2 separate regions of the Homo sapiens genome follow, and region 2 is linked to region 1. A link means that fine-mapping ties the variant in region 1 to the expression of a gene that starts in the linked region. Tissue or cell type: whole blood. Region 1 holds a variant in brackets; the other region holds the start of a gene. All regions are shown on one strand. Distances are between the middles of the regions.

The links. PIP is the estimated chance that this variant, and not a neighbour inherited with it, causes the effect.
Region 2: it holds the start of SCD, and the variant in region 1 is fine-mapped to the expression of SCD in whole blood (INTERVAL, PIP 0.95).

The regions. Positions count from the first base shown.
Region 1 is chr10:100,494,725-100,497,482 of GRCh38, reverse strand. It overlaps SEC31B (SEC31 homolog B, COPII component), which reads left to right. Exons shown (of 26, transcript NM_015490.4): 17 at 203-348; 18 at 1,052-1,225; 19 at 1,937-2,098. Among named protein-coding and RNA genes, the nearest start is that of SEC31B, 24 kb to the left of the region's middle. The variant T/C (reference allele first, on the strand shown) is at 1,397.
Region 2 is chr10:100,345,670-100,348,169 of GRCh38, reverse strand. It overlaps SCD (stearoyl-CoA desaturase), which reads right to left and starts at 937. Exons shown (of 6, transcript NM_005063.5): 1 at 639-937; 2 at 1-106. The coding sequence starts at 665. RefSeq lists enhancers at 573-812, 1,193-1,262, 911-1,502 and silencers at 1,043-1,092, 1,293-1,672.

The DNA.
Region 1 (2,758 bases):
CCTTTGTTGTCCTGTTTTACCTTGTCTTGTCACACCATGATGTGAGAACTTTCCCCTTCTCTGTACAGCAAGGTGAGTCTCAGTGTTGTCTTAAACTGCAGCTACTTGTCCCAGGCTCATGGTCCTCTCCCTGTTTCCAAACAGGAGAAGGAGAGGCACACAGGGCAGCTGTGCCATTAATGAAATTACCCTCTCTCTGCAGACATGCTGGGAACTCGCATGGAACAGGAGGGCAGCAGGGCACTAACCTCCGAAGCCAGACTCTGTTATGTGTGCTCAGGGAGTGTGGAGCGGCTGGTGGAGTGCTGGGCAAAATGCCACCAGGCTTTGTCCCCCATGGCTCTGCAGGTACCCCTTCTCTGCAGGGTACTGGCCACTCCACACCAGGCCCTTAGGAGGCTAGTGGTGGAGATGTGCAGAGCTAGCAGAGGCGAATCTTCTGGGACAGGCTGGAACCACGGTGTTAGGGAGGAGCGAAAGGTCCTGAATGTCTGGGATCTTCTCCTCTTCCCTCAGAGAAGACTAAGCAGCAGCTGCTTCAGTGTTAGTCTTCATAATTTTTTTCCTATTTCAGGTTTGGTTTTACAGATGTATTCAGTACTTGAGTAATTGTGGCTTGGCCCTTCTATTAGCTACTGTGGAAAGTTCTGTGGATCTAAACTTCCAGGTGTTCTGTGGGTGACCACAGAAAGTGGGGGTCACAGACTCATGGAGAGACAAAAGTCGCACATGAAACAATTAGTCTGACAGAGTCTGTGGTTGGTGATGTATAAGCAGAAAGGGTAAAAAAGCAAAAGGAAGAGGTAGAGATGTACAAAAATCTAAGACCCAGATGGGTCCAGTTAAATCCAATCCTAACAGCTTGGGAGGTGAGGCCAGGTGGCCCTTCTCTGTCACAGTTCTTACGTGTCATCATCTGCTGCCTTCACCTAGGTATGGTCAGGTGCCCTCATCTGTACCCATAGTGGGAGATCCCTGAATGAGCTGCGTGGACTTAGAGAGCAGGATATGCCTCATTGAAGGCTTACCACCCTCATCCTTGCCCTTACAGGACCTGATGGAGAAGGTGATGGTTCTTAACAGGAGCTTGGAGCAACTGCGGGGTCCTCATGGGGTGAGCCCAGGCCCTGCCACAACCTACAGGGTCACTCAGTATGCCAACCTCCTGGCAGCCCAGGGCAGCCTGGCCACTGCCATGAGCTTTCTACCCAGGGACTGTGCTCAGGTAAGTGGGGCCATGTGGAGAGAGCAAACCATTTCATTCAGTCATCTAACATTGATTGAGCACTTCCATATTCCAGGCACTATGCTAATGCTGAAGCTCCTAGGATAGATAAGATGGAATCCCTTAAGCACCTCACAATCTACTGGGGGAAGATCAGATGTTGATGACTTA[T/C]AGTGCCATAACAGAAGCTTATACTGAGCACTGTGGGAGTCCAGGGAAGGGACTGATTTTTGCCTGGAGAAGTCAAGGAAGGCTTCTCAATGGTTAAAACAGCTGAGCTGGACCTTCAAAGAGAAGTAGCTTACCAGCAGATATAGAGCATTCTAAGCAGAAAGAATAGCAAGGAGGGAGGCATGCAAGTGTTTGGCAGGGATTCAGGAACCTTGAGTCATCTCTAAGGGGGCTAGAGTATAGAGCGGGGGTGTCCAAGGGTCAGAATACAGTCGTGGGTGCTTAGTTTCTGTTTCTGGTTGGGCCAGTAAAGCCCCTTCCTCATCCCGGTTTTCCACTTATCACTAGAGACAAACCAAAAACCATGGCTTCAGGCTGCTAAAAACCTAAAACAAAACAAAACAGAACAGAACAACAACAACAACAAAATAACACAGGTTGGACAAGCTTGGTGTAGAGGGTCAGCTGAAATTTGACTGCTACCTGGGGCCTTGATTGTTTTAATTTCTTGACACAGCTCTTCCTCATTAAAACTTATAGCCACCAGTTCAGCAGCTAAGAGATCGGCTTTTTCATGCTCAAGGTTCTGCTGTCTTGGGCCAACAGTCTCCCCCTTTCCCCTTCCCCCGGATTGTTGTGGGAGCTACCCTCCACTCTAAAGAGACATCATCTTACAGATTGGGATCCCAGCCTTCTCACCAGGTAAGACCTCGTTTGTTCATTCATTTGTTCATTCAATAATACGTGCCAAGCATGGTTCTGGGCACTTGGAATATATTGTGAACAAAACTGATGAAAATTCCCAACTTCCATAGAACATAGATTCAGTTCTTTTTATAATAAATAACTGTTTATTGAACTACTAGGCTCTTAGGACATAAAGGTGCAAAAATTGTGATACTTGCCCTCAAGTAGCTCATAGTGTAGTCGAAAGATAGATATGTAAAAAATAGCTACAGTAGGCCTGGCGTGGTGGCTCACGCCTGTAATCCCAGCACTTTGGGAGGCCAAAGCGGGCAGATCATGAGGTTTGGAGTTCGAGACCATCCTAGCCAACATGGTGAAACCCCATCTCTACTGAAAATACAAAATAATGATCTGGGCATGGTGGCACGTGCCTGTAGTCCCAGCTACTCGGGAGGCTGAGGCAGGAGTATCACTTGAACCTGGGAGGTGGAGGTTGAAGTGAGCCCAGATCATACCACTGCACTCCAGCCTGGCAACGGAGCGAGACTCCGTCTCAAAAAAAAAAAAAAAAAAATAGCTACAGTAAAATTCATAAATACCATGATTGGGGTATGGCAAGGGGCTATAAGATCACACAGATGAAAGTAGTTTACTCTGTATGGTGAGGTTGTGGGG
Region 2 (2,500 bases), 150 kb after region 1:
CGTCTTCCAAGTAGAGGGGCATCGTCTCCAACTTATCTCCTCCATTCTGCAGGACCCTGGAGGGAGGCGCTGTAATGGTGGTGGTGGTGGTATAGGAGCTAGAGATCTGGAAGGGGGAGGAAGAGGAGAGTCAGGAGAAGAGACACGTGGAGGCAGCTGGGGCCACTCCGCTCTCTAATCACGCTGGGGGAAGGGTGGACAGTACGGACCCTTCCGCAGCGCCGTAGTTCACTGAGGGTAGGGTGTATCCGAGACGCAACGGAGAAAAGTTCCCTGAAACTGTACAGATACATTAGGGGCGGAGGGCGAGGGGGACGAGGGGCGCGAAACCTATCGGGAGGCGGCAGTAGGAAGGAGAAGTAAAGCACTCACATCCCCACGAAGACAAAGGAAAACCCGCATAATTCATAAAAGCACCAGCACGACCGGATTTTTCTTTAAAGCTTAAGAAACTAAAGTTGGAGACTCAAGTCCCCAAATTACAATCCACATTCCCAACTCACGGAAGGCAGCACAACTCGAAAAAGATGACCAAGTCCTCCGCGGAGCTCTCCCCTCTCTTCTGCCACCAACCCGTCCCCTGGAAGCCCAGCCCGCGCCTGCGACCCGGCGGTACGGGGCCAGGCTGGGAAACTCACATCGTCCTGCAGCAAGTGGGCCGGCATCTTGGCTCTCGGATGCCGGGATCACTTTCCAGGGGGCTGAGGCTCCGGAGCGGAGTTCGGGGTCGCCGGAGGACTGCGGTTTCGAAGCCCGCCGGTACGCGCTGAGCCGCGGCGCCTTGCACGCTAGCTGGTTGTCGGCGCTAGCCGCGGTGCGTGGAGGTCCCCGAGCCGGGAATTTAAAGGCTAGAGCTGGCAACGGGTGACCGTGTCCGGTATTTCCTCAGCCCCCTTTTATCCGCTGCCAAGCAGGGGCAAAGTGCGAGGAGTTGACTGGCGCGGGCGGTCCCGCGTGGAGGTAAGGGCGGGAGGGGGAGGAGACAGAGGCCGAGGCTCGCGGCGACCGCAGCAGGGCGCCGGGGATGCTGCCGACACCGACACCACACCACCCGGCCTCTGCCCCTGCCCCTGCCTCTGGGGAAATGCTAATGAGGCTTCTGTAAACTCCGGCTCGTCATTGGCCGAAGGGAATTTGGTGCCACCTCGTCCTGCCGTTGCCATTGGCTCGGCGCAATCTGCTGTTCCCTCTGCCGCCAGCTCCTCGCTCCCCCTCCCCTCTGTTTCTCCTTCTCAGCTTCTCTTCCACCCGCCGCTGGGCCTCTGCCCGGCATCCCGCGTCGGGAGCTTTCTCTCTGGAAGGGGCTGGGGACCCGGTTTGGGGCTGGGGCGCGGAGCCTAGCCCAGGACCGGCCCTCGGGCACACGGAGAACGGGTGGGTGGGCACTGGGGAAGTTTCTCAGGAAACAGTGGTGAACCCTCGGGGGGCGCCCACCACTAACATCTCCGTCCCGTCTTCCGTCCCCCCAGGCGCGTGGCAGGGAGACGTGGCAGCCACCCCAGGATCTGGAGCTTGGGGGACGCGGGAAGCCCCGCCTCCCTCCCGGGCGAGCGCGGGGGACTCGGTACGCCTGCGAACAATGGCTCTGCCCCGCCCACCAGCCACGCGCTGCTCACCCGGGACCGCACCGGACTCCGGCCGCACACACAGGCTGGCTGGTGTGTGTGTGCCTGCGCGCACGCATCCTGTTCAGGACCCGGGCGGGCAGTCCCATCCCCAAGCCCGCGCCTCCAGGATGCGTGCGGGATGTTTTGGAGATTCTTCAGACTGGCAGGTTGTAATTTTGGAATCTTCTTTGTGGAAACCGTCAGGAAACACTGACATGTGTTTTCACCCAGCAGCAGGCGAAAGGGCTTGGATGTGGAATAAGAATAGCTGGCAGGTATTGAATTATTACTGCAAGCCAATTCACAAGAATCGTTTTCTGTAAGCCTCTCTGTGACCCTGGGAGGTGGGTACCCCATTATTCCATTTTAAAAGTGAGGAAAGAGATATGGAGAGATGGAATAACTTGCCCATGGTCACAGCAACCAGTAAGTGATGGAGCTGGCAGTTGAGCCCAGAAACACCATATGAGAGCCCAAGCTCTTAATCCCTGCTCAGGACCATATTGCCCTCGGTCCCTGAGATGCTCTGACCCTACTGATCTGTCCCTGTGCCCCCATCTTTTCCGTGTCTGTAGGAGCCTTACCATGAGAGCTCAGAACCAGGCAGGCTATGCATTCACCCGGTGTCCTTCCATGCCCATGTCTTTCCCAAATACTGCCCTAGGATCCTTCCCCTGGGAAGAGGAGAAAATACGGAGTGCTGCGCCAATGATTCACTTCCCAGGAAGACAAGCACCTGGGATTTCCTGGGAGGTAGACTAAGCAGCTCCTTTGTTGGCCACTGGTCTCAGGGTCAGGCCAACTCTCTGGCCAGTGACCAGGAGACTGCATTCCAGTCCTGGCTCCCTGTCCGGTGTGAAAGTTCTGAACAAGACTGGATGATTTCAGATGTG